Linked DNA regions of Homo sapiens. The protein of the gene in region 2 purifies or fractionates together with the protein of the main gene of each other region. This does not show direct contact. Each region holds a gene or a part of one and is shown on either strand. Other genes may lie near its edges.

What was found.
Region 1: the proteins of RHEX (region 2) and JPH1 purify together in Homo sapiens (affinity purification with mass spectrometry; 3 studies listed by BioGRID and IntAct, with this or other methods). This does not show direct contact.
Region 3: the proteins of RHEX (region 2) and TMTC4 purify together in Homo sapiens (affinity purification with mass spectrometry; 3 studies listed by BioGRID and IntAct, with this or other methods). This does not show direct contact.
Region 4: the proteins of RHEX (region 2) and WDR47 purify together in Homo sapiens (affinity purification with mass spectrometry; 3 studies listed by BioGRID and IntAct, with this or other methods). This does not show direct contact.
Region 5: the proteins of RHEX (region 2) and DIP2A purify together in Homo sapiens (affinity purification with mass spectrometry; 3 studies listed by BioGRID and IntAct, with this or other methods). This does not show direct contact.
Region 6: the proteins of RHEX (region 2) and PLXDC2 purify together in Homo sapiens (affinity purification with mass spectrometry; 3 studies listed by BioGRID and IntAct, with this or other methods). This does not show direct contact.
Region 7: the proteins of RHEX (region 2) and SBF1 purify together in Homo sapiens (affinity purification with mass spectrometry; 3 studies listed by BioGRID and IntAct, with this or other methods). This does not show direct contact.

The regions. Positions count from the first base shown.
Region 1 is NC_000008.11:74,258,659-74,262,727, reverse strand, and holds part of JPH1 (junctophilin-1), read left to right. Parts: intron 1-3,224; coding exon 3,225-3,343; intron 3,344-4,069. UniProt on the Homo sapiens protein: Junctophilins contribute to the formation of junctional membrane complexes (JMCs) which link the plasma membrane with the endoplasmic or sarcoplasmic reticulum in excitable cells.
Region 2 is NC_000001.11:206,059,244-206,063,312, reverse strand, and holds part of RHEX (regulator of hemoglobinization and erythroid cell expansion protein), read right to left. Parts: intron 1-4,069. UniProt on the Homo sapiens protein: Acts as a signaling transduction factor of the EPO-EPOR signaling pathway promoting erythroid cell differentiation.
Region 3 is NC_000013.11:100,668,152-100,672,220, reverse strand, and holds part of TMTC4 (protein O-mannosyl-transferase TMTC4), read left to right. Parts: intron 1-1,651; 5' UTR 1,652-1,858; coding exon 1,859-1,861; exon of another isoform or gene 1,862-1,938; intron 1,939-3,426; coding exon 3,427-3,642; intron 3,643-4,069. UniProt on the Homo sapiens protein: Transfers mannosyl residues to the hydroxyl group of serine or threonine residues.
Region 4 is NC_000001.11:108,969,468-108,973,231, reverse strand, and holds the end of WDR47 (WD repeat-containing protein 47), read left to right. Parts: intron 1-1,659; coding exon 1,660-1,802; 3' UTR 1,803-3,018; downstream 3,019-3,764.
Region 5 is NC_000021.9:46,556,172-46,560,240, forward strand, and holds part of DIP2A (disco-interacting protein 2 homolog A), read left to right. Parts: intron 1-231; coding exon of another isoform or gene 232-258; exon of another isoform or gene 259-667; intron 668-767; coding exon 768-898; intron 899-1,413; coding exon 1,414-1,582; intron 1,583-2,051; coding exon 2,052-2,222; intron 2,223-3,662; coding exon of another isoform or gene 3,663-3,692; intron 3,693-4,069. UniProt on the Homo sapiens protein: Catalyzes the de novo synthesis of acetyl-CoA in vitro. Promotes acetylation of CTTN, possibly by providing the acetyl donor, ensuring correct dendritic spine morphology and synaptic transmission.
Region 6 is NC_000010.11:19,822,729-19,826,797, forward strand, and holds part of PLXDC2 (plexin domain-containing protein 2 isoform 1 precursor), read left to right. Parts: intron 1-4,069. UniProt on the Homo sapiens protein: May play a role in tumor angiogenesis.
Region 7 is NC_000022.11:50,450,467-50,454,535, forward strand, and holds part of SBF1 (myotubularin-related protein 5), read right to left. Parts: coding exon 4,046-4,069; intron 1-4,045. UniProt on the Homo sapiens protein: Acts as an adapter for the phosphatase MTMR2 to regulate MTMR2 catalytic activity and subcellular location. Promotes the exchange of GDP to GTP, converting inactive GDP-bound Rab proteins into their active GTP-bound form.

The DNA.
Region 1 (4,069 bases), on a different chromosome or scaffold from region 2:
CACAAGTTAAAAATTCGGTTTATTTGTTAAAAATATATAGCCCTAAAAGAAAGTCAACAGCTGATGCTTAATTTAAAGAAGTCGCTTTTCAGTTACTTTTTACTGCATTTGATGGGAGAAAGTATTTGTGATAATGGTATTTGGAGATTCTTGAGGGTCTGAAGATTTGTAAAATGTCACAGTCTTTTGATAAATGAAATGCTTTTGGGGCACGTATTCCCCTTTGGTGTATGCATTTTTTGCCTGTGACCAGCAATAGCATCAGGGCATCCAGTTTGAGTGGTTTCAGCTTATCTCTCCAGACTGCCTAACCTGAATCCCACCCCCCAACGCAAGAACAATCGCAATTGACTGATTACAGGGGTCGTGTGTCACTCTGGAACTGAGCCTGGGATGTGATCACATGAATTCACTAACATGAGCCAGAGACAAGTCCAGATTATTCCTGGGCAAAATCTAGACATGCCAGTGGCCTTAGCTGTACAGGCTGGTGTTAACAGCAAACTCAGAGTGGGTTTCTGTTCTTCCTTCTTGTCATCGGTTCCAAAAGCTCTTGAGCAGACTTCAGGATTCAGGTTTGAATGTGGTCTTGACTCATCTGGCCAGCTATACAGTAGCACTGAGCCACAGAGCTGGGCTGGATAGAAAGGTCCTCCTTTGCTGTGTGGTCTTATAGGAAACAGCAAGTAAAAAAGTAAAGGGTTAAGTACTAGCAGGCTTCACTGATGCTGTGCTTCCAAAATATATTTGCAGAAAGGTTAAGCTGTATTTGTCTATTCTCTAGTTTAGCATATTATAAAAAGTGGTAGATATACTACTGCTGTTTTATTTGACTGTATGGTGGTGTGTCGTGATTGAATCCGAATAAGTTACTTGTACTTGAGTTTTGTAAATTTATCATTAAAGGGCTAATAGATAGTATTATAAAGCAGCATAGCTATACTCTTATGGCTTCATTAATTATGACACCTAGACATAATTAGGCTCTGGCTAAGAATAGCGGACAAAATGGAAAATCATTTGGGGGAAAAAAGTTTAGATTCTGAGAAACTGAAAGAACATTAGCGGAGGGCATCTGTTGATTATCAGGCACAACACACAGGACTAAGGCATTACCCATCGTACCTCAGCAATGGCACCCATGAGGGGTTATTCCAACAGCCAGTTGTTTAAGAATATGTCCCTCCCCTCTTGATGTTATTTCCATTTCATATTTCTTGATACCCCATACACAAATAATCTAAAGCATCCTCCATGGTTTAGAAATAGCAGTTTTGATGATTCGAAGTTGATCCACTCATTTTTAATGACTTTATTTTTTAGAGCAGTTTTAAGTTATCAGAAAAATTGAACAGGAACTGCAAAGTTCCCATACACCTCCTCTCCTCATGCACACACACAATATCCCCTATTATTAACATCTTGCATTTTGAGGTGCGTTTGGTGTAATTGATGAACCGGTATTAATATATTAGTATTAAAGTCCATAGTTTACATCAGGCTTCATTCACTGTTTGTGTTGTACAGTCTATAGATTTTGACAAATATGTAATGTCCCCCACTACAGTATCATGCAGAATAATTAAACTCCCCCAGATATGCCCTCCTTTCCACCAATTCATTCTTCCCTACTACACCCCGAACTCTTAGCAACTCTGAATCTTTTTACTGTCTCTATGGTTTTGTCATTCCATTCAGTTTTAAGAACTACCCAGCTTTTCCTAAGGAAGCATCATTCATTCCTTTATTCATAAAGTGGTCCCTCAATAAATAGTATGTGCCAATGTAGCGTTCTGCACTTTGGGATTATGACAGAGGACCAAAAATTAAAAATTCCAATCTTCACAAAGCTTACATTCTAATACATCAAGCCTTCAGGCTTGCTTAGATCCTAAATAGAAGTGAAAGGAGTCCCGTGAGAGCACAGGACAAGAGGAGGTTATTGAAGAGAGTAATGTGAAAAGGGGGCCTCCTACCAGTAGACCCCCTTGTCTCAGGCCAGGCCCGGTGCCTCCGTGTTTTGGTCCCAGGAGCTCCGCCTGCCAGCCTCCTCCAGCTGCTGCCCGTGTGTTCTCCCTGAAGAGCATCCAAAGCCCATGCCTTTTCCCAACTCCTCCTCTCTCCTGCTGTCTCCAACATAAGTGTAAGCACCTTTTTCAGACTTCCATTAAGTTTTCACTGCTAGTTATTTATAGCCCTGCCTAGTGCTAATAAAATATAATAGAAAATTTACAAAGTCATAAGAAATAGGTACCCATAAACATCTAAAGACTAACGGGACAAGGCCTTTCCCTTTGCAGAGCAGATAAACCAGAGTTTTTTTCTTCCCTCCAACCCTCTCTGGGGCCAGTAGACATCATTCCCTGGTGCAGCCATAAGAAGCCCTATTCTTTTTCCTGCCACTTTCCGCATAACCCTAGTCCTCCAGAAAGATGAGAGGTTTCCATGAGTGAGGACAGGCCAGGGAGGCGATGGAAGACTGAAAGATCCATTTCATCCTTGCCAGTTCTGCCTCGCTGTCTCCTTTTTGGTTCATACAAGAAACATGCCTAAAAGTCAGCTAAATGGGCTCCTCAGGAACCCTTCTGAGCATGTTCTTAGAGCGGGCCTTGTGGTTTGCTCCTGCTGGTGAGCACCAATAGTGCACATCTCCCCACTGCACATCCAACGGCATTATGCTGGTAGCCTGAAATTGGCCACGGTGAGAACATTTACACATGGATATGAATAAACACTACCAATCCCCATTTCACTAATTTTTTTCTTCAAAGAGCTACTTCACCAGCATGCCAGTGGGCAGATCTTTCTTAGTCAAATTCTTACATTGATTGTACCGTAGAAATGAATTTGATAAACACTATTAATTTATATGTTCTAATTCTACTTTCCATAATTTTAGGTGGGGGGGAGGAATGCCAACCAAAGTCAACAGGAGATTTGATCCAGTAAGTTTTGAAAACCACACTTAGCATCAAGCTACACAGACCTTGCTCTTACTTTTCATTTCCCTTGAGAGAAGGGCTAAGGCAATTCATGGGTAGTTTAGTTTCATCTATGTCATCTTCATTGAAATTTCACGGCAATAGGACTCTAAAATTTTTGCTCTTGTGGGTGTCGGGCCATAATCATAATTAACATTTCTTTTCCCAGATTACAATTTGCTTGTCCCTGTGTAAGTAACAAGGGGTCACCTATGCTGACTCGTCCTTTTGTGCCCCGTGTAGGACTGCACATGCCAGAGCGAAGGCCGATGCCGCCGACCAGGCCGCGCTGGCCGCTCGCCAGGAGTGCGACATCGCGAGAGCTGTGGCCAGGGAGCTGTCACCTGATTTCTACCAACCAGGTAAAACAGTGCTCCTTTGATGGGTGAGGCAGGAGCACTGGCTTTGGCTTGCTTTTATTTCCTTTTCCTTTCAACATAAAGATGTGTGCTTCCTGAATCCCAGCAGTACTATTATACAAAACAAGCAAGGGCGCCTGCGGTTGAGGATCCTTCATCTGAAGTGCTTGGGACCAGAAGTGTTTCAGATTTCAGATTTGTTGATATTTTTCTGTATTTGCATGTACACAGTGAGATCTCTTGAGCTGGGAACCCAAGTTGAAACACGAAATTCATTTATGTTTCATAGATACCTTATACACATAGCCTGGAGGTAATTTTATAGTATATTTTTAATAATTTTGCACATGGAACAAAGTTTTGACTGCATTTTGACTGTGACCATCGGTCATGTGGAATTTTCCACTTGTAGCATCGTGTCGGTGCCCACAATGTTTTGGATTCTGGAGCATTTCAGATTTTTGGATTAGGAATGTTCAACTTGTAGTAACAAATATCACCCGAGGTCTGAGTGTTAGCCCTGGAGATGGGTTATTCCCCAGAGTCTCACCCTTCCTCCCCTCTACATATGACCAACAAAGTTTGAGCTGATAGCAGTAAACTAGACAAGAATCTAAAATATCTGATTCTAAGAAATTATTTTAGTGACAGCTACAGATTCTATAACAAATACCCCCAAATTCAGAGGCACTTTTAGTAGTAAGAGAAGAGCCAGTCAGTACTGTGACT
Region 2 (4,069 bases):
CCTCCTAATAGTGAAGAACCCTGACTCTCCCCACATCTTTGCTGTGATCCTTGCAACCCCCCAGTTCCATTCCAGACACATTCATCTCCTCGCTTTTCTTTGACCATGTCAGGTACACGTCTACCTCAGGGCCTTTGCACTGCCATTCCTCCTGCCTGAAATACTCTTTCCCTATTTATCATCAGGTGTCACATTCTTACCTTTCTTTTAGGTCAAATGTCAGTAAGGCCTTCCCTGAACACCTGATACAAACTAGCAACCCACTCTTACCTCTTACAAGGAAGTGTAGGGTAGGGAATGCTTGCTTTATTTCCCCGTAGCACATCCCACCATCTGACATTTTGTGTGTTTATGTGTTTCTTTGTTCGTTCTAGAAGGTAAGCTCTGTGAGGACAAGGCTTTGTCTGTTGGGATCACTGCTGTATTCCCAGGACCTAGATCACGGAAGTGCTTAATGACTACTTGTGAATGACGAAAAGAAGGAGTAAATCAATTGTAAAGTTCCAGTCATCTACCACAGTTCCCACGGGAGCTGTTCCTGGCCAGTGGTGACACACAGCCCACTTCCCGCTTGGCACTCCTCCCCCGTCCCCTTTCTCAGGTGGCCCCCATGCTTCCTGGGAGCTCACCAAGTTCCTCAGTAAGAAGCACTTCCCAGGCACCTGCAGCCCCCCTATGCCTCCTCCTCCACATCTGGCATATTGTCCAGCAGTTGTATTGTGCAGACACACGAGGCAGTCAGCCATGCACGTGATCACAGATACAAGCATGACTCCTAAGTTGACACCCATGGGGTGTTAACTCCTGACAGGGTAAGACTGGAGAGACAAAAGCAGCTGGACCTGAAATGGTCTGAATCCCCCTCCTCGGCCCTTTTGCCTCAGGAGGGGCAGGAGCTCAGAGGGCTTCCTTGTTGGCCAGGCTGTCTCAGGAGCCTGCCTCTGGGGCTGGGGGTGATCTGGACGAGCATGTCCTGTGTTTCTTGTATGTCACTCCTTTCTATTAGAACAGTACTTTGATTCTAATAAATCAGAAGAAATGTCTAGCCATCCACCTCCATCAGAATATGTTTTACGTTTTATTTTTATTTATTTACTTTTTTTAGAGATGGAGTCTCACTCTGTTGCCAGGCTGGAGTGCAGCGGTGTGATCTTGGCTCACTGCAACTTCCGCCCCCTGGGTTCAAGTGATTCTCCTGCCTCAGCCTTCCAAGTAGCTGGGATTACAGGCATGCACCACCACACCTGGCTAATTTTTGTATCTTTAGTAGAGACGGGGTTTCACCATGTTGGCCAGGATGGTCTTGATCTCTTGACCTGGTGATCTGCCTGCCTCAGCCTCCCAAAGTGCTGGGATACAGGTGTGAGCCACCGTGCCTGGCCTATGTATTTTTTTTTTTTTAAACACACACATAAATCTAAAGCAAAGGGTATGCCAAGATTCAGCTGGGGCCAGGTCTGACCCCCACTCTGAGCATCTCATTAGCTTCCCATCAGTGGAATACAATGGAGACATATTCCACTTGGTCTGGCAATGTCCTCCTGGGGTGATGAAAAGGGGGCATGTTGGTGTAGACAGCAAAGTCGTCCTCCTTCTGGGGAGCCAGGTTGATCACGTTGGAATATATGGCATCAGCATGGCAGGAAAGATCCTTTAGAGATAGAACCCTGGTTAGAGGCAGATGGCTGGGCACCAGGGACTTCCAAAGACAAAACAAGGCATTGGGCTGTCCCTACAGGACAGCAAGTAGAATGCTGAGTTCTTGCTGCACAAGCCCTAGATCTCAGTTTTCATAGGCATTTCCTCCAGATCTGCCCCCCGCCTCCTCCCACCACCCTCTGTGTGGGGTCTAGGTAAGGAAGCAGCCAGAAGGCCAGGATCCCCCTCTCTACATGCGACTGGACTAGTTCCTTACCGAGGACTTGTGGGGAAAGTTGGTCTGATGCCTCAGTTGTTTCTTAAATAGTCCTAGAAAAATGGATAAACTCAGAGTCAGTCTGAGTTGGGTTAATAACCATCTTTACTTGGTTGTTTGCTGGGTTTAGGGCTTAACTTTGAAATGCAAAATCCACCACACTCAGCCCATTGGGCCTCTGAGACTAAGTTAAATTCCCAGGAAGACACAGGGGAAATGAGTACGCTTTATAATTTATAATTTTGTTTATTATTTAGAAGAGATTATTTGGCATCAGTATTTCTTTTAGCTGAGGCATATAGGCCATAAGCATATATGCAGATGGCTTATACTATATATAGCTTTCAGCATGAAGAACTTGTGTGATGAGTAATTCTTATTGCTGTGTACAGAGTCCCCAGCAAGTCTAGAGAAGAGGTCTTATCTTCATATCTCCTTCATATTACCCTCCCACTACCCGCTCCCCTCCCCGACAAGACTGCCCCATAGGAAAAACACCCCAATCTCTGCCCCCAGTTTCTCCTCTCTTCATTCCCAGTTCCAGGGCCAGCTTGTTCAACTCACTCTCTTGCCTCCATTTCTTCAGGGTCATGGACAAGAGACCCACCAGGAGCAAGATGAGGGACACCACAGCAATGGAGCCAGAAAGGGCTGTGGCTGCTGTGCTTAGGCTGAAGGAAGCAACTAAGAGACATGAGGACCATCCAGCTGCTCTGGCTGGCTTTGGTGACCCTCCACAAAAGTGCCCTGGGGCCTCCTCACCCATGTAGAAGCTCTCCCACTTCCAGGCTTCACCTCCTTAGTGGCCAACCATCTCCTGCCTCCATTTTAGCCCCTCTTTTCAGCTCTAGCCTCCATCACCATGGCCCCCACTCACACCAATCCCCACAGATCCTTCCCCAGGAGCCCACCTTCCTCCTTCATGGATCCAGCCCTTCTCTCACCCACCTGCTGAGTCCTGCAGTGTTAGTCTCTGGCTTCAGGGTGGTGATGTTCTCTGCATAAGGGGAAGGAGAGGAAAGTAATACGAAGGAGATAGGAAGGTAATTCTTGCACACCTATGCAAATGAGCTCTACAGAATCCTAAATGGTAATATTAGCTACTGTTTATTGTGAACTTAGTATATATTGGGCACATTCATTATCTTGTTTAATCTTCATATATAGACCTGAGATAGGAACAATCATTATTCCTATTATACAGTAAAGAAAAACAGTTCTTGAGGATCACACTTGCTCAGGGTCATAGGGCTGGTAAGTGGCAGAGTTTGGACATAAACCTCCATCTCTCTGACTTTAAGTCGTGTGTTCATACACAGTATATTCTGCTGCCTCCATGTGATTGTTTCACTCCAGAGCTCTACCATTCTTACCAAGGGTTAGCAGATATGACAGGAGGTCCAGAAAAAGAGATAACCAGGATGTGCAGTGCTAGGTACCTGGGGGAGGGCATGTGAGAGGGGTTGACAGGATCAGGACATAAGCAAGGCCAGTAGAGCTACGGCTAGGAAGAGGTGGCAGGCGTGGGAGCCTGCCCATGCTCTGGTGGGGAAGGGGAGAATTATTCACACCAGGAAAGAATTTCTCCTGCCTCGAGGGATGGAGACACAAAGTCCATCCCCTCTCCAGCCACATTCTGTCCATAGATTCTCAGAGCTAAAAGGAATCTTAAACCCTCCCATTGTATAGGTGAGGAATCTCAGGGGAAGGCACTTGCCTGAGGCAAGTGCTGTAGCCAGGACTGGAGTCAGGCATTTTGACTCCAAACCCAAAGCTCTCTTTATCTGCATTCAGTCTCCTTCCTGTTTCTTCCCCATAAAGTGAAGCTGCATGATTCAGCCCTATAGCAGATAGCACCCCTCAGGCCACATGTCTTGGGGAGCTGGCTGTGCAATGCAGAGACTGTGGCCAAGGTGGGGTGGGGGGAACCCATTGGATCACTAAGGCAATTTACTAGCCACCTTGGATAAATAGCATCTGGGAACACAAAAGTACCAAGTTTTACAGCCTTTAGGGGCACCAAGGCCAGATGGGATTCTGTTGGGTATCCTAACAGCTCCCTTCCTTTCTGCCTTTTTCCCTGTCTCCCTTCTGAGTGAGAGAGCTGACCTCACCAAGTTTCCCTTTGACAGCTACTGGATGGAGGGTAGGAAG
Region 3 (4,069 bases), on a different chromosome or scaffold from region 2:
GCCCATCTGCAGGAATAAACACTGGCAACATGGGTGCGCCCGAGACAGGCAGTCAGGGACTGGGAAGCAGCGGCTAATTTCTCCAAAATCTAACAATAATGAGAACTAGTTGTTTGCATACATTTTCTCCTTTAATCCTTACCACCACCTTCTGAAGAAAGTGGTGGTGGTACTGTGTTGTGCCAGTGAGGAAATTGATTCTTAGAAAGACTAAGCAGTTCAAGGTCGTGCAGCCGGCAAGTCCAGGTTTGTCCGTCACCAGAGCCTTTGGTCTCAACCACTGGACTAGACTGATCACTTTGCCTGGCTTTCTAACAAATTGTAGCTTTTTTTTTTTTTTTTTTGCGTTTGCTAGTGAAAGGCATTTTCCAAACTGTTCCACTATGTACGTTAACAGTAAATCCCTTCAAAGAAAAGAGCATTTGTGAGTATTTTCAGTGGCAGCAAAGAAGTGGGAGGCCTTGGAGAAAGGAGAAGGAGCCCCCTGAGATAGAGAAGCAGGGGAGTCACAGCAAGGAGGGGAGAGCCAGCCAGAACTGGGAAATGATGTAGGGGCAGGGGCGTTGGAGGTAGGCCAGGTTTCCTGCTGTCCCTGCAAGAGCAGAGGAGGAGATCATCTGAGATCCACTGAGTCAGCCATCCACTTGACTTCCCAAGAGTCTGGACCTGGCCTCCTACCAGGGCATCTCGTTGATGGTGTGGTCCACAGTCTGCCTTATATATCCTGGGGCTGTGGCTTGGAACATGATTATGCTTAGAACATATTGCTTAGAACACGTTTATGTTCTAAGCAATCTGAGGTACAGTCGCTAATTTAGGAGCACAAAGTATTTCCTGATTTAGTATTCTACTTAGAAGGCCATTTGAACCTTGACAAACGTTTGTGAAATAATTTTCAAATATTTGAGCCTGAAGCAGATAATATCCAGGCTCAGTGGCACACTCCTATAGTCCCAGCTACTTGGGAGACCGAGGCAGGAGGGTTACTTGTGCCCAAAAGTTGAAGCTAGTCTGGGCAACATAGCAAGACGCCATCTCCAAAAATATATTGCATGAGCCAATAAATTCACTATTGAAACAATAAAACAGATAACGTCAAAACCGGTTACATGACCTTTTGTCAGCTCATGACTCTATTGTGCATTTAAAATTGCTATAAATTATTTGTTTTCCTTCACATTTAATTTTCTAAAATTTCTCCCCATGTTAAATCATAGTATCTTCCTAACTATTCAGTATTTGGCTTTGTTGGGCTTTGTTGTTGTTTGAGACAGGGTCTCACTCTGTTGCCCATGCTGTAGAGCCGAGGTGTGATCTCAGCTCACTGCAGCCTGGAACTCCTGGGCTCAAGCAATACTCGCACCTCTCAGTCTCCTGAGTAGCTGGGACTGCAGGCATACGCCTCCACACTCAGCTAATTTTTGTATTTTTTTTTGTAGACACGGGGTTTCACCTTGTTGCCCAGGCTGGTCTCGAACCTCTGGGCTCAAGCCATCCACCGGCCTCGGCCTCCCAAAGTGCTGGGATTACAGGCGTGAGCCATTGCAACCAGCCTTGATTTGTTGTTTTTTAAGTAGCAGGAGTAATTTCTTTAGCTGAAATGTAAGCATAGAGGTTGGGGTCTGTGTGCTAACCTGTGTTGTGTTTGCAGTTGTAATTTAGATTCGAGAAGTGGTTTATCCTTTGACTGGAAAAGAAAAGTAGCTGCAGTATTCCCCCAGCACTTGCTGAGAGCATGCCGTATGCCAGGCTGTGAGGCTCGAGAGACAAGCAGTGGAAGAGTTGCGGCCTGTTTCATCTCTGGATTGTAAATCTGAGCCTCCTTCTGGCCCCTGGAAGGGGACAGCATCACCATGGAATGGTGTGTCCCGTTGCCTGTTGGATCTGTCTCCATCTTCACTCAGACAGAAGGCTATAGAAAGATGCCTGTGACTTCAGGTGGCCTATTTGGCTGGCTTCTTATTGATTCCATAATCTGGGGTATCCACTTAGAGATCCAGAAACAAATACATCCAAACTGCCTTCCCAATCAGGGGGCTGGAATTCTCTTTCATCTCAGCAGGAAAAGAACAGGGTCCAGGTCCCTTAGTAAAGACAGGAGCCTCGGTACCAATCAACCAGCTACTAAAAGGGATTTCCCACAGAAAATCATTCTGTGCCTCTGCTTTCAGCCTTCTGGAAGAAAGTATTAGTAATAGTAGCCGGCCTCCCCTGAGCCTTCATTACAGCCAGGCAGTGCTGGGAATCCTATTTAACCCTCATGACAACTCTAGAAGGTAGGCACTCTTACCATCCCCATTTTAGTGTTGAGGAAACAGGCCCAGAGAGGTCAAGTAAGTTGCCAGAGGTACCCCAGGTCAGAACCGAGCAGTCTTACCCAAACCTGATCCTGGTAAATCCAAAGAAAGCACCTGTCCAGGATGTGGTGGGAATGGGGACAGATAAAAAAGTGCGAGTTTGGGGGTAGGTTGAGATTTGTTTTGGCGAATTCCAAGGCGGGAAGCTGTTAGGCACCGCTGACCACTGGGCGTTAAGATGCTTTGCAGAGGGCCGCAGGGGGTGGGCTCAGAGAGGAAAGGGGTTGTGCACAGGACCGCACAACTAACACATGGCAAGGATGAGGCACAGGCATCCCCGGCGAGAAACATTATGCCCATTTGAAAGAAAAGTTCAAAATAGGATATATTTTTATCTTGACTCTTTCACCAGGATTGAAGGTCATATCCTCACACAGAATAGCCTCCCTTCCTTTCCTTTGTATGGCTCAGCCTTTTCTGGGACAAGATATTGTCCCCACCAGTCATTTCCTCTATCTGTCCTCTGTGTTGAGCCAGTAGCCTAGGAACCCAGCATTCGATCCTGTGCCCCGCCTTAGGATTTCTCTGTTCGACTCCCCTGTCTCTGTGTCAGAGTCTCAGCTCCCTGGCCTGTGTGCCTGAATGCTACAAATAGACCATAAGCTCTTTCAGAAGCAGGGTTGTGTTTTACACACGACCCTCTCCCCTGCCACACACACAGTGTGCTAAAACCCAACAATGACTATTTATTAATTTTTCTGGATTGGATGAGGTAGGATGGTAACTTTTTTTTTAAGCTTTGTAAACTGGTTCAAGGACGATTAAAAATGATTTGCCTTGTGGGGTTGATGAGGATACCATTACATTCGTATTTCTAAACGATATTCTGGCATCAGAAACCAAAGGGCATCTGATTTGATAGATCCTGTGGTCGGACCCAGGAATCTGCATGTGTCCCATGTGACTTTTCTGCCCACTAAAGTTTGGGAAGCACAGCTTCAAATTGTTACTGATCACATCCTATAAAATCATAGCATAAATGACTATCTAGCTCTTACTCACGGTGCCCACTGCAGAAACGGTCCTACCAGTGTTGATGAATATTTATACAGTGTTGTTTTTCCTGCAGATTCCTAACCAGCATAATGCTGGAGCCGGGAGCCACCAACCTGCAGTTTTCAGAATGGCCGTGTTGGACACTGATTTGGATCACATTCTTCCATCTTCTGTTCTTCCTCCATTCTGGGCTAAGTTAGTAGTGGGATCGGTTGCCATTGTGTGTTTTGCACGCAGCTATGATGGAGACTTTGTCTTTGATGACTCAGAAGCTATTGTTAACAATAAGGTTTGTATCTCAACTCTTTTCTGGTAAACTTAACTGCCCAACTGTGTCTCAGTAATCATCTAAGTATGTGTTGCATTGTTCTCTGTGGAATGTAGGTTAAGCATTGGCCTGGGCCCCGATGGTGCTCTCGATTTTTCTCTCTTTTCAACATCGCCTCCATGATTTAGTGCCTTTCTTATTGCTGGCACCAAGGTTCTGAACCCCTGCCTCAGCTCAGGCACTCCCCTCAAGAGCTCCAGTCCACATATGGATCAAAGAGGCCGTTATTCTAAGATTACAAGGCAAGGGCATTGCAGGGTGTTGCAGACTTAGTATTCCAGATTTTGCAAAACATTTCCACAGTTGTTCAAAAAAAAAAAAAACCCATCACGCATTTGCTGCAGTGATGGACGGGTGTGATCACCTGCCAGAAGGTGCATCTTCAGCA
Region 4 (3,764 bases), about 97 Mb from region 2:
CTTGGCTCACTGCAGGGGGAAGGCTATTTTAAATAGGATAATTGGAGTAGGTCTCTCCAAGGAAATGCCATTTGCATAGAGACCAGAATGATGAGGAGGAACAAGCCAGGCCAGGATATTAGGAGAAGAGCACAGCAAGTATAAAGATGCTGAAGTAGGAACCAGCTTAGCACGTTCATGACACTACAGGAAGCCAATGTGCCTGGAACTTAGTGAACTAAGAGAGAGAGACACAGAAGAATAAATCAGAGGCAGGGTTTTATAGACTTTTTTTTTTTTTTTTTCTGAGACAGAGTCTCGCTCTGTCGCCCAGGCTGGAGCGCAGTGGTGCAATGTCGGCTCACTGCAAGCTCCACCTCCCAGTTCATGCCATTCTCCTGCCTCAGCCTCCCAAGTAGCTGGAACTACAGGCGCCCGCCACCACACCTGGCTAATTTTTTGTATTTTTAGTAGAGACAGAGTTTCACCATGTTAGCCTTGATCTTGATGGTCTTGATCTCCTGACCTCGTGATCTGCCTGCCTTGGCCTCCCAAAGTGCTGGGATTACAGGCGTGAGCCACCGCGCCCGGCCTATAGACATTTTTTTTAAGGGCTTTATTTTTAATAGCAGTTATAGGTTAACAGCAAAATTGAGAGATACGGAGATTTCCCATATACTCCTGACTCACACATGCATAGCCTGCCTCCCCCATTATCAGTATCCCCTTCCACAGTGGTACATTTATTATAGTTGGTGGGCTATAAGCATTTTAAAAAGTATAATGTGAAGCCTTTGGAAGATTTTAACTGGAAGGGATAGGAGCTGAATTATATTTTTGGAGAATTTGGGGTTCTGTAGGGAGAGTAGATTGTAAGGGGGCAAGAGTAGAAATATAAATGTCAGTGAGGAGGCTGTTGGAATAGTTCAGGTGAGATGATGGTGGCTTGGACTAGGGTGGTGGAGGTGGAGGTAGTAAGAAATGACTAAATTTGAGATATATTTTGTTTGGATCAGCTTTGAGGAGTGAGGGGAAAAGGAATCAATGACGATTCCTAGGTTTTTGTCATGAGCAACCAGATGGTGCCATTGAGATAAGGGAGGCAGGTAAGGGGAGGAACAGGTTTAGGCAAGAAAACCAAGAGTTTGGTTTTAGACAAGTTTAAATTAGGATGACTATCAGACAAGTGAGATATTGAATGACTATTTGGATACTAGTCTGGAGCTCAGATGAGAACCAAGATTGGAGATAAAATATGTATGAATTGTAAATATATAAATGGCCATGTTGCTAGATGAAATTTTTTAGGAAGTTAGGTACAGAGAGAACAGAAGAAATCTGAGGGTTGACTCCTGGGATTCACCAAGCTTTACGTCAAGAAGAAAAGGGAAACTAGCAAAAGATGAAGTGGCACTGAAATCAGGGAGAAATCAAGTTGAGAGAATTTCCGAGAGAGAGAGAGAGGCAACTTGTCAAATGTTGCTGTATGGGTATATGTTAGCAAATACTAATAGCATAATTAGGTAGGTAGTAATTTATCCCTGTATAAACCTTTCAATGTATTATATTAATGTAGTTTAAGATTTTTTATACTGTAATGTCTTAAAGTAACAGGAAGTCTATACAATCTATACATATACTTATTTTGCATTGTAAATCAACATCTCTTTTGTAATTTAGGGGACCTCACCAAGCAGCTTCCTATCATGGTGGTGGGGGAGCACAAGGACAAAGTGATTCAGTGCAGATGGCACACCCAGGATCTTTCCTTCCTGTCATCCTCTGCAGATAGAACTGTCACCCTCTGGACTTACAATGGGTAGAGCACACCGCATGTCAGTCTATGCAGCAAAAGCACAGAGACTTAAGACTACTGAGTTGTGAAAATTACAAATCTGAAGAACATAGTGTCCAGGAAAGTGGTTTAGCACGAAGAGGCCCCTTATTACCATGTATCCCACTGATAGGAGGTGTTGGGTGGTGTTATTCCGCAGTGCTTTCAGTCTTCCATGTGAGCTCGTGCTGCTGTGACCTGCTATATGTAGTCTCGTTGCCAAAGTCTGCAGAAGAGCTCTTCAGTTGTTGGTGTGCACTCCAAGTCAGGATGGACAATGTGTTTACGGTTTAGTATTCAATGCATTCCTTGGTCTTTGCCTAAATAACAGTTTTATATGCACATTGAAATGGAATTATACTTCAACTATATTATTAAATGTAATGCAACCAAGTTCCTCCCAGATTAAACTTCCCAGGTGTTCAGAATTACTTTTGCTCTTCTCACGATCCCATATTGTATTATCACTTGTCTTCTAGAGGTCAGAATTCCATAATATATGTCACTCAAAAGTTACATGGTTGCTTTCACTTAAGGATCATTGTGGAGTTTAAAGATGAATGAAAAACTGCTTCTTAGTTTACTACATGGTATAGGCCCTTTTTTCTTAAACCCAGGGATATGATTATTTTGTCATATAATTTTGTTTCAGGCTAAAAGGTAAATGTGTTTGCTTCAGAAACTTGTTAACTTCAGTTTTTTGAATGCAACAGGATACCTCCCTTCCAAACTGAACTGTAGAAGCAGAGCAGCAGCAGTTATGTGATGCAACACTTGATGGTACAGTAAATTTACTGGCATTTTTCTCCTTAAAAATTAAAATCCTTGACATAGACCATAGCATGGCTTGAAATGCTATGTCTGCATGATAATTTAAAATGGAAGATTTAAACTTTGCACTCCAAAAGCTTATTTGGATTTTTTTCTTGCACTGTTTTGTGTAATGCAGAATAATGATTTTATTTCTACAGCTTTGTAGATTCTAACATTTATGTATCTTTATTTTCATATTGTACAGTAATTTTACTTTAAATTATTTAAATAGGCTATTTTATTTATTTCAAATGCAGTTGTATTAGTTCTCATTATTGAACTGTCTGTGCACTGTATGTAGCAAGCATTTTTCATCTGTTGTATACAAGTGGAAAGGGTATTAGAAGTGTAACTGTGCTATTATTTCAATAAAGACCTCTTGACATTTAAAACTGTTTCTGTTCCTCAGTCTTTGGCTTTCAAAATAATGTTATTTTTTCAGTTTACTGGGAGAAAGTGAGGTCCAGTGGATGAAGTCCATAATCAGTTTCTTAGATTTCTTTCTAAAGTTCTTCTACTAATTTGCTTTTTAATCCTTGGCAACTGTATAACTTATTAACAAAAAAATAATTTTTCTAAAAATGGGGTCTTGCTTTGTCCAGGTTGGTCTTGAACTCTTGGCCTCAAGTGATTCTCCTGAGTCAACCTCCTGAAGTGTTGGGATTATGGGCGTGAGCCATTGTGCCTGGCCTGTATAACTTTTGTGTGTCTTCTGTCTCTTTTATCCAAGATTTAGAGAACTTTCTATCCTTAATATGTTGTGAAAGTTGACTAATAAAAGCCTAACAATATGTATAAATTTGAACTCAAGAGTATGAATATGTCGAATTAGGTAATCACCCAACAGGTTCACCATGCCCTCTGCCTAGATAGAGCCAATTTATTCAAGACAAGGGAATTGCAATAGAGAAAGAGTTATTCATGCAGAGCCAGCTGTGCAGAAGACTGGAGTTTTATCACTCAAATCACTCTCCCTGAGCATTCCAGGATCAGAGTTTTTAAGGATAATTTGGTGGGTGGGGTTCACTCCTAGTAAATTGGGAGTGCTGATGGGTTGGGTTGGAGATGAAATCATAGGGAGTCAAATCTGTCTTGAGTCAGTTCCTGGGTGGGGGCCACAAGATGAGCCAGTTTACTG
Region 5 (4,069 bases), on a different chromosome or scaffold from region 2:
AACTGACAGGTCCTTCTTATGCAAAGCACAAAGCAACAATTTTGCTTCTTAAGATTTGTGTTAAATACCAATAAATGCTAAGATGTGATTAGCCTGAGAGTAATGCGTTTTCTGATGCATTATGGTTATGTCTAAACTTTCTGATTTATGACTGTCTAGCTTACAGGAACTGGTGGCTTTGAAGAATCTCTTACCTTGCTGGGAGTCAATAGCTCAATTAAAATTTTTCAGGCGGGGCGTGGTGGCTCACGCCTGTAATCCCAGCACTTCGGGAGGCCGAGGCGGGTGGATCACAAGATCAAGAGATGGAGACCATCCTGGCCAACGTGGTGAAACCCCGTCTCTACTAAAAATACAAAAAATTAGCTGGGCATGGTGGCAGGTGCCTCTAATCCCAGATACTCAGGAGGCTGAGGCAGGAGAATTGCTTGAACCCGGGAGGCAGAGGTTGCAGTGAGCCGAGATTGTGCCATTGCACTCCAGCCTGGGCGACAGAGCAAGACTCTGCCTCAAAAAAAAAAAAAAGAAAAAAATTTTAAAAATTCATTACCCTGAAATTTTGTTTCAAAGATTTTTAGTGTACCATTTCTTGGGTATTATTTAGGTTATATGGGGATTTGAGCCAACCGTCTTTTAAGGAAATAAATATGATGTTTGGTAGTTCGGAGCTATGGTCTAGCCATGTGAACAGCGGACACTGCCATCCACCCTCTCCCCTCCTGAATTTCATTTCACTTTTTTTTTTTGAACTTTATTTTACTCTTAAGATGTCGCACGCGGCCACAAGCGCCTTATGCCGCTCCATAAAGCTGCAGTGTGAGCTGTACCCCTCGCGGCAGATCGCCATCTGCCTCGACCCCTACTGTGGCCTTGGTTTTGCCCTGTGGTGTCTGTGCAGGTGAGTGCAGGGCCCCTGCTGCCTGCCAGGTGGGAGCAGCTCGTGTGGCTCTTAGGAACCTTGGCCTTCTAAGGCACCTTTTCTGGGTGCTCAGGAAGCCGATGAGATGTGTGTGAGTGGGTTTGTTTGGGGATGAAGTGGGTTGGAGTCTGAGTCTGAAATTGAGTGAAAATACATTTTTCATTAAATACACTGTCCGTTATCAGTACTTGGGAAGAATCTGCTTGATTCCTTCAAACACTAGAAAGTGGCGATCCGTCTCTAGAAGTGAATGCCTCTGGAGTGGTGTCCCCGGATCCTCTCCAAGTGTTCGGAGCAGAGCTCAGAACCCCGTGCCTGCCATCCCCCAACCTTCACCCTGTGGCATGTTTTCCACCAAACCCCCCCACTTGGCGTCAGAACAGAAATCATGCCCCTGTTGTGGCTGGAAAAGAAGTGTTCTTGAGGAAGGGAAGAGTGGAGTGCCCAGGGTGCTGGGTGGGCGGGCGGAGCCTCACGAGCCTTCCCTCTCGCAGTGTCTACTCGGGACACCAATCAGTGCTGGTGCCCCCGCTGGAGCTGGAGAGCAACGTGTCCCTGTGGCTGTCGGCCGTCAGCCAGTACAAGGCCCGCGTCACCTTCTGCTCCTACTCTGTGATGGAGATGTGCACCAAGGGCCTAGGCGCACAGACGGGTGTCCTCAGGGTGAGTGCCCAGACCCGGGCTTCTGAGTGTGCTGCAGACCACAGCCCTGGGAAGTTTAAAAACAACAAAACAAAACAAGACTCCCAAGGCCCCTCCCTGCAGTTGGAGGAAGTAGAGAAAACCCTTTCCCACTAGGGGCCCTATGTACACATCTGTCCTCCCACGGCCCACCTGTCTCTGCAGCTCCACACCCCGCAGGAGAGGAGGGTGGGGGGTAGGGCAGGGTCCCTGCGAGATAGCGGGGTGGAAGTCTGGCCGCGTGGGAGGGCAGGTGTGGGATGCAGGTCAGATGGGAATCGTTTAGCGCATCCACACGTAGGATTCTGTGGAACAGACACAGCCTGCGGAGAGGAGGTTGGTGTCCAGCTCCACCTCTGTGTGCCCACCCGGAGATTTCCCAAAACAGTGCCCAGGGCCCTGGCAACTCACTGAGCTGTGGCCGTGGCCTGACCGCTCACCCCTCCCGCAGATGAAGGGGGTGAACCTGTCATGTGTGCGCACGTGCATGGTGGTCGCCGAGGAGCGGCCCAGGATTGCGCTGACCCAGTCCTTCTCCAAGCTCTTCAAGGACCTGGGCCTGCCGGCCCGCGCCGTAAGCACCACGTTCGGGTGCAGGGTCAACGTGGCCATCTGCCTCCAGGTGAGGTGCCTGGGGCTGCGGTTCTCGAAAGCTGGCTGTTGGCAGCATGGAGACCCAGTTTCCCAGTTGTTAATGTGCCGTTTTGTAGCCGCCTGATCTATTTCTCCTTCTCTGGGCCTTTGATATCTCATTTCCATGTAACATTTTAGCTTCAAGGGTTTTATTTTTAAAGATGTTCTATTCTAGTTGGAGAAAGGCTTATTTGGAAAAAAAACACATTGTTTTTGAACAGTGACTAATAACTGTAAGACTCTCTAAGTTAGATATAAAACACAGCTAAGTTCTTAAAGCAAGATTGAACTTACTGTTTTAAGATATCTAGCAATATTAAATTGAAACATTAATAAATGTGGTAATTTGTGTTGACTCAAATTCATTTCTGAAACCATGAAATGTCTTATTAAAAGGAAGCACCAAGTTTCAGGCCAGGAGTGGTGGCTCATGCCTATAATCCCAGCACTTTGGGAGGCTGAGGCAGGCGGATTACCTGAGGTCAGGAATTCGAGACCAGCCTGGACAATATGATGAGACCCCGTCTCTACTAAAAATACAAAAATTAGCTGGCTGGTGGTGCGCGCCTGTTGTCCCGGCTACTTGGGAGGTTGAGGCACAAGAATCGCTTGAACCTGGCAAGAGGAGGTTGCAGCGAGCCAAGATCTCACCACTGCACTCCAGCCTGGGTGACAGAGCGAGACCCTGTCTCAAAAAAAAAAAAAAAAAAAAAAAAAAAACATAGGTAGCACCAAGTTTCAGAGATTGAAGAGCTCACGGCAGTTCTGTTTATTGCTTCCTCAGATAGCTACAGCTGTTGCCCAGATTTTGTACTAGTATCTCAATTTCATTTCTTTCTAAAAACATCTTAAAACCAAATGGCTTTTTAGATAACCCTACATATTGAACGCCTTATTCACCCACATAGTACAAGAATAGCTGGAAGGAAATGGCACCTGTCCGTGCCAGAGCAGGGCTGAGTGCAGGTCTGTCTCTGTTTCCAAAGTGTTTGCTTGGCCTTGTGCCTCCCCATCACAGTGGCAGTGCACGCAGGGCAGGGCGGGGGCTCTGCTCACACCCTCTTCACCACAAAAAGACCCCTGACCACTCAAGCCTCAGACCCTTGTCACGCAGCAGAGGAGATCGGGCGGGAGCCTTTTGTGAGCTCGCTTCCTGTGTAGGCTGTGGCTGAGCGTGGGTGCCGGCCTTTGTGTTAGCGGCTCTGCGTCTGCAAGCCTGGGGCCTCCTTGCTAGACGTCGGAAGGGTATGGATGCCACACATGATTGCAGAAATGATGTTAATGGGATGTTCACGTTTGCTCTTTAAGATACAGAGGTGGGTTTTGCTCTCTCTTTCCCTGTGTTTCTCATGTGGCTGCTGCTTCTGTGTGTGTTTCCTGTGGCTGTCTCCTCCCTGTCTCACTCTGCTGCCTCCTTGGCCTCTGTCAGCCCAACAGGCTGGGAAAGCTGGCTGAGCAGGTATGACCTTGACCTTGACCTTGTTGGTGCCTCTGTGCTTCCCCCTCCCATGAGTTCATGTGACTTTCTCGTGAATTCTAGACAAACATGTTTCTTTTGCTGTCTTACTTTGTTCACAGTGGATATTACTTGACATATTACAAAAGCTCCCTTGTAACCAAATTTAAAAGTAAAACTATTTTCAAAAAATGTTAATGCTCATAGCATTGCCTTGGGAGGAAGGGCTGTGTTTAGTTCCAGTGCAGAGGTGTTTAATTCCAGTGCAGACACAGGTTATGTTGTCTGGGATCTTTAAGGGTGATGTTGATCAGAGTACTCATTTAATTGATGTTCCTTATTGAATAAAATGACACATAATGTCCTTTAGTCGGGATTAA
Region 6 (4,069 bases), on a different chromosome or scaffold from region 2:
AGTGATGTTGAGGACCATGTCATATGCCTGTTGGCCATTTTTTTTGTCTTCTTTGGAGAAATGTCTTTTTTAGGCACTTTGCCTATTTTAATATCAGTTATTTACATTAAGCCTTCTGTTGATAGATAGGACTTTCAAAAAGTTTATTCCACTATTTTCCTATACTGCTAGTTTCTTTCTGGATGTTTACTTACTTTTTTTTTTTGAGACAGAGTCTCGCTGTTTCTCCCAGTCTGGAGTGCAGTGGCGCGATCTCAGCTCACTGCAAGCACCGCCTCCCAGGTTCACGCCATTCTCCTGCCTCAGCTTCCCAAGTAGCTGGGACTACAGGCACCCGCCACCACGCCCAGCTAATTTTTTGTATTTTTTAGTAGAGACGGGGTTTCACTGTGTTAGCCAGGATGGTCTCGATCTCCTGACCTCGTGATCAACCCACCTCAGCCTCCCAAAGTGCTGGGATGTTTACTTATGCTTTTAATTTAATATCTTAAAATATGATATACATATATATGTACATATGCATACATATATGGTGGTGGTGGTGTTTCATTTCACTGAAGATGAAGACTATTAAATAATTTTGGTTCTTTGTGGGATTCTTTTTGAATTAAACTGTTTTAGGCCTCATGTCACTAAACTATAATGAAGGAGGCTGTAAAAATATTGTCTCGGCTGGGCGTGGTGGCTCACACCTGTGATCCCAGCACTTTTTTGGGAGGTGGAGGTGGGTAGATCAAGAGGTCAGGAGATCAAGACCATCCTGGCCAACATGGTGAAACCCCGTCTTCCCTAAAAATAAAAAAAATTAGCCAGGCATGGTGGCATGCACCTGTAGTCCCAGCTACTCAGGAGGCTGAGGCAGGAGAATCGCTTGACCCGGGAGGTGGAGGTTGAGATTGCGCCACTGCACTCCAGCTGGGCGACAGAGCAAGACTTCATCTCAAAAAAAAAAAAATTCTCATAAAACTTGTTTTGAGGTGAGGTTCAGTGGCTCACACCTGTAATCCCAACACTTTGGGAGGCCGAGACAGGGGGATTGCTTGAGTCCACGATTTGGAGACCAGCCTGGGCAACATAGGGAAGAGACCTCATCTCTACAGTTTTTTTGTTTTGTTTTGTTTTGTTTTTAATTAGCTGTTCATGGTGGTGCACACCTGTAGTCCCAGCTACTTGGTAGGCTGAGGTGGGAGGATCACTTGAACCCAGGAGGTCAGGGCTGCAATGAGCTGTGATTACACCACTGCATTCCAGCCTGGCCAACAGAGTGTGACCCTGTCTCAAAAAGTAAAATAATAAAAAATCTTGCTGTGGGAGCTGTTACAGGGAAGCAGATGAGGATATTCTGCAATACATTTCACGGTGTCTGCTCCCCAAGATATTATGCCATGAGAAAATGAGAAAGAGAAAGAGACAGAGACAGGGTGAGAGACCTTATGTTTCAATAACAGACATAGTTCTTTTGAACTTGTTTGTGTCTTCTGGACATTATAAATAGTACCTAGGAGTTTTACCATTTAACTTTTGGTTTCTTGAAATCTCAGTGCAAGATTTGTGGCCCACCTCCAACAAGCATATAAACCTTCTGGCCTACATTTGTGTGCTAGCTTACCTATGTCTTCATCTTACCTTTTCTACCTTTTCTCACTTAAAATCTTGTTTGGTATTTGTTTTGGAGATGGGAAAAAAGCAAATAAAATTGAATCGCCATAATACATAAGGTTGTGTATCACTAAGTTGCTTTCCACTTTCTCTTAATCTGATGAATTCCAGCCCTTTGGCTTTATTCTGAGCACATTTTCCCAAAGCTGTAATTATCTCTGTAGAGTACTCCATTCTGAGAGGTCTTTCTTCACTGAGTTCACACAGGATATCTTCCCTCACTGCCTCCCACACAATGATTCTGTTAAGCTGAGGAAGTTACTAGAGAATGACAGGCTAAGTAGTGATGCTTTTATTAAGAAAGTTTCTTCCACTATTTATTGTGTTATACATTAACAGGATAATAGCTGACAAAAGATGAGAATATAAAATATTCCACATGTGTTTATAACCAGACAGTGAACTCATTTCATATTTATTGTTTGGTTTTATTTTCCTCTTTTTAATTAAAAAGGTGGTAAGCTGTGGAATGATGGTATAGATTTGTATATTTAAATAGAATTAGAGGTCTTGTCAGGGGCCTGTTTGGAATTAGCCTGTTAAGGATTACAGATCTGAACATGGGGTCAGACACTAAGTGACGTTACTGGATATCCAGACTTTTAAATCTCTTCTGTCAGAGGCCATCAAACCAGATCTAAGCGCTGGTACCTTTACCTTACCCTTCAAATTAAAATAGGCTGTCCTCACTCTTTCTGCTTGAGGCCTTATCATAGTTAGTGGTCTGTGAATTTTGTCAAGAGAGGGTCACAGGCCAAGATGCAGACTGACTTCCTTTTTACTTGTCTGGAATCTTATTACTCAGTTCCTCAATTATTTTTTACTCAATAATTGGACATTTTCCTTAGAATCCATGTTGTTCGAGGTCTCGTCCTGTAGGTAAGGTGTGTAGCTCATTGAGGCTTTGAGAATATGGAGAGAATGTTAAGAGTTTGCCCTATGGAAAAACTGCATAGGAATCCGAATATTTGAAAGTCAATTCTCTATGTATTCCTTGGAGTGTTCAGTGATACAAAAAGTCTAAATAAAACTGATATATTCTCTTTGAGTATGATGCTTGGTAAGTACACTCTGGTTCATTTTGCTTAGGATACTGTATTCTTGGGTCCAGCTGGAATATGGAACATTGAACATTCGATAATGTTTTTTGGGTAGTAGTTACAGATATCTGCTTACAGTAGCAACTGCTTACAGTAGTAACTCCTACCATTTTCTGTCTGAAACCATTATATGAACATCCAATAAAATATTTATTTCCCTAAAGCCTAAAAGGGAAGTAGGACAGGCAGAATTTATCATTTAGAGCATGAAATGTACCAATAATGATGAGTTTTAAGATGGGAAAGTATTTAAGGTACATTTCAGGTACTGCTCATGCTGAATCTATTATATCTATTTGCTGAATTCTTTCCAACATACAAACTTAGACTGTAGCTACCGCTGACCTAATGAACCTGGTTATTTATATGCTGTCTTTTTGTTCATTTGTCTGGTCAAAAGGGCCCACTCACCTTCCTGTGGGCATAGCTGGCGGGAGCAAGTCTGGTATTTCAGCTGACTTCTCCTTTTGGCTTTCTCTTCTCCTTCTCCTTTTGCTATCTTTTCTCTTCAATTCATTGAAAAATGTCTATATATAAATTACATAAATGCAATCTGCATTGCAAAATATCCCAATGAAAAGTATATATGAAATAATTTTTGGCAAACTGAGTCATGTTCTTAGTGGATATGGGTTCCTGTGATTTCAAGGAATGCTGTCCTGAACTTTTAATTTAAAAACATTCAACCTCCTAATTATTTTGCCAGTCCGTAGTTTTATGTTTAAGATTGCCCAAAATGTACTGCCTGTCCATAATTCTTTCAAGAATTATTGCTTCTGATATTAGCCATTTTAATTCTATTTACTATTTATATAGGTCCTGGGAATATACACCTTTGAATTTTTTGTTGTTGTCATTTAGCCCTTTAATTTGCTAATTCCAGGAAACAAAAATTGAACTAAGAGACATACCACTGTGTCTTTGCACTTTTTTTCTTGGTGCTTGTTTGGAGCAGAAACAGGAGGGTCATTTTAGTTTTTTTGTCATACAAGAAAAATTTGAAGAATATTTTAATACTTTGAAAACTGTGGATGCCCTGTGAAAATCAAGTTGACTTGTGAGGTTAAAACAAATTTTATTTCACATTTTAGTTTGAGAGCATTCTTGCTATATTACAAAGATATTGCTCAGTGCTTTATTTTCATATGCTGGTTTTGTTAAACTAGCATAGGATATTATATATCTTGTATAATGTACAGTTGTACCTACTTTGATTCATAACTTGGCTTTAAAGTTTTTATGTAGCTTTAAAAAAGGTGGTTTTTTTGTTCAAACTGAATGAATTTTATGAAAACCTTTTGTTTTACGTG
Region 7 (4,069 bases), on a different chromosome or scaffold from region 2:
GCCGAGAGTGCGCCACTGCACTCCAGCCTGGGAGACAAAGTGAGACTCTGCCTCAAAAAAAAAAAAACAAAACTATGAGCTGAACCCAAATTCTAGAGGAATGCTAAAAGATACTGGACTTCCAAAAAGCCAGTGTGGCAAGACCTTACCGAAGACACAAAGACACAAAACTCCAACTGAAGCCCTGGAGAGGCCACACGCCTTGGGCTGCTCTATCCCTGGAGCTTCTCTAGAGGTGCTGGAGAGCTGCCCAAACAAAGCTTAGAAACAAGCTTCAAACAGACCAAGCTGACGCACAAGCTCATTACCTACCTGCGAGAATAAAACCCAAGACTCTAAGCTTAAAGAAAGACAACACAGGCAGGGCACAGTGGCTCCCGCCTGTAAGCCCAGCACTTCGGGAGGCCGAGGAGGGAGAATCGCTTGACCCAAGGAGTGTGAGAACAGCTTGGGCAACATGGCAAGACCCCATCTTTATATATATTTTTAAGTTATGTTTCAAGATTTAAAAGAAAAGATGGACATAATGGTTTATCAGATGGGGAATCTCTACAATAAAAAGCGTTAAATTCATTAGATGGGGCCGGGTGTGGTGGCTCATGCCTGTAATCCCAGCACTTTAGGAGGCCAAGGTGAGAGGACTGCTTGAGCCCAGGAGTTTGAGACCTGCCTGGGTGACATAGGGAGACCCCATCTCTACAAAAAAAAAAAAAAAAAAAAAAAAAAAGTAGCCGGCACGTGGCCCACGCCAGTAGTCTTGGCAACTCAAGAGGCTGAATGAAGCAGGATGATTGTTTGAGCCTGGGAGGTTCGGGCTGCAGTGAGCCATGACTGTGCCACTGCACTCCAGCCTGGGCAACAGAGCAAGACCCTGTCTCAAGAAATTAAAAAAAAATTCATTTGATGGGCTTCAGTATATTAAAAACAAGAAAGAAAAGAGTAGTGAACTTGAAGACAAGCCAACAGAAATCATCCAAAATGAATTGCAAAGATAAAGACTGAGAAAAAACAAACAGAGCTTCAGCAACGTATGGGACAATAAAGTTCCAGAAGGAAAGGGAGAGATCATGCAGAAAAAGTAATTTATAGAAGCAATGGCTTGAAATGTATTAAATTTGACAAAAATGATCATCCCACAGACCCAGAAGTTTAAAGAGCCCCAAGCAGGACGAAAGCAAAAACCACAATGGTCAAATTGCTGAAGCCAAAATTAAATGCAAAATCTTAAGGCAGAGAATCAAAGGGTGCCATTATACACAGTTTATAAGGATAAGAATCAACACCAACTTCTAAGCAGAAACAATACAGGCCAGAAAACAAAGTAATATCTTTTTTTTTTTTTTTTTTGAGGCAGAGTCTCACTCATGTCGCCCAGGCTGCAGTGCAGTGGCGCGATCTCAGCTCAGTGCAGCCTCCACCTCCCGGGTTGAAGCGATTCTCCTGCCTCAGCCTCCTGAGTAGCTGGGATTACAGGCACCCGCCACCATGCTCAGCTCATTTTTATATTTTAGTAGAGACGGGGTTTCACCATATTTGCCAGGCTGGTCTCGAACTCCTGACCTCAGGTTATCCACCTGCCTCAGCCTCCCAAAGTGCTGGGATGACAGGCGTGAGCCGCTGCGCCCAGCCTAGTAATGAGATCTTTTAAAGTGACATCAGTTTAACTGCTGAATTAAAAAAAAAAAAAAAAAAAAGAAGCAGCTGTCAACCTAGAAATGCATATCCAGAGAAAATGCCCTTTGCAAAATAAAGGCACCAAGATGTTTTCAGATAAACAAAAGCTGAGGGGATTTGTGACTGGCAGCTCTGCATTACAAGAAATATTAAAAATTCTTCAGGCTGAAGAGAAATAATAACCAGACCAGATTATACTGAAAGAATGAAGAATGTTATAAATGGCAAAAATAGAAGACTTTTTCCTTCTTTCTTAATTTCCTTAAAACAAAGTTGACTATTTAAAACAAAAACAGGGCCGGGCACGGTGGCTCACGCCTGTAATCCCAGCACTTTGCAAGGCCAAGGCGGGCGGATCACCTGAGGTCAGGAGTTTGAGACTAGCCTGGCCAACACAGTGAAACCCCGTCTCTACTAAAAATACAAAAAAAATTTAGCCGGGCATGATGGTGGGTGCCTCTAATCCCAGCTACTTGGGAGGCTGAGACAGGAGAATCACCTGAACTCAGAGGCAGAGGTTGCAGTGAACCGAGATCGCACCACCGCTCTCCAGCCTGGGTGACTGAGGGAGACTCCATCTCTCAAAAAAAAAAAAAAAAAAAAAAAAAAAACCATACTGGGTGTTTATGTCATACGTAAAAATAAAATGTGTGACAGTAACAGGACAGGAAAGGCATGAATGGACACACACTGCCGTAAGGCTCTTCTGGTGTCAACAGGGTGATGTAATTTCAAGTCAGATGATTATAGCCCCCAGCAACCCCTGAAACACAACACAGAGATGTACAGCTCAACTCACAGTAGACAGAATACTAAAAACACTTGTTTTTTAAAAAAAGAAAAGAAAGAAAGGAAAAAAAATCAAAGGGACAAAGAGAAAACAAAGAGCAAGATGACAGACTTAAACCCAGCCACATCAATAGTAACAGTAAATTAAAATGGGCTAAAAATTCCAATTAAAAAAACCCATTAGACTGGATAACAAGAAGACCCAACTACATCTACATTCTGTGTACAAGAAACTCACCTTAAACATAAACACACAGACCAGTAAAAAATACAAGAAAACAACAGAGCAAGCTGACACTGGTCATGACAAAGCTGAGTGACTCTGTTAGCACCAATGAGACCGCGTCAACTTTAAGACAATGAGCATCGCTAGAGAGAAAAAGGGACTGCTGTCTGTGCTTTGTGGGTCACCTCCATCACAAACCATGACTCCCGTACTCCCCCAAACCCTGTGCCCCATGCTAAGTCACTGAAATAAATGACTCATTTAAGCCTCACAACTTCCCTGTAAGGCAGGAATCAGCATTTCCACTTTCTGCACAAGGAACCAGAAGCTCTAAGATGCTTAGATAACTAGGCCAGGCACGGTGGCTCACGCCTGTAATCCCAGCACTTTGGGAGGCCGAGGCAGGTGGATCACGAGGTCAGGAGATCGAGACCATCCTGGCTAACACGGTAAAACCCCGTCTCCACTAAAAATACAAAAAATTAGCTGGGCGTGGTGGTGGGCACCTGTAGTCCCAGCTACTCGAGAGGCTGAGGCAGGAGAATGGTGTGAACCCGGGAGACGGAGCTTGCAGTGAGCGGAGATCGCGCCACTACACTCCAGCCTGGGCGACAGAGCGAGACTCCATCTCAAAATAAAAAAAAAAAGATAACCTCTAAGGCCACACAGCCAACAGTGGGGAGCTGAGTGCAGGTCCCCCCGTGGCCTAGGTCCAAGGTCCACACTCCTCTGCCTGCTCAGTCCCACAGAGACTCCGGGATGGCCCCAAAAGGTAGCACCACGCGCAGGACACTGCCTCAGGCCTTACACACCAACCCAGCCACCACCCAATCGCAGTCTCCTTTCTCCCTCCCAGGCATCTCTGCCTTGTTCAGTCCAGGCCCACCAGGGATGGCACAGTGAGGGGTAAGAGAGGCCTCAATGTCAACCCCAAGCTCTCAGGGCAAGAACCCAGAGCTGCTCACGTTAGGTGGGGCAGGCGGTCTGGCAGAGGGAGTAAAACACTGTCGTCTCTAAGGGCTGACTCCTCAACAGGTGCCTGAGCTGCTCAAAGCCAGGTCAGGGAAAACACACGTGCTCAGAGTGGAGGCTGTGTACTGAGACCTGAGGGTCTCTGATGACGGCCCTCCTGTCACTGTCTGGAAGCACCCACTGAGTGGTGCGGGGCCCTGGGGAGCCACAGCCACCCCAGGCCAGTAGGCAGTTCACATGGTGGGGAGACGGCAGGGCCACACCAACCCCCAGGGGTAACCGGACTTACGTGCATGTACGAGTGTACACACACACGCACGACCCTGGTGTCTGAGCGAGAGGAGGGGGGTGCCAGGCCAGACCCTGCTCTGGGATCACACGCACCTCCAGCAGGCGTGAGATGGCGTC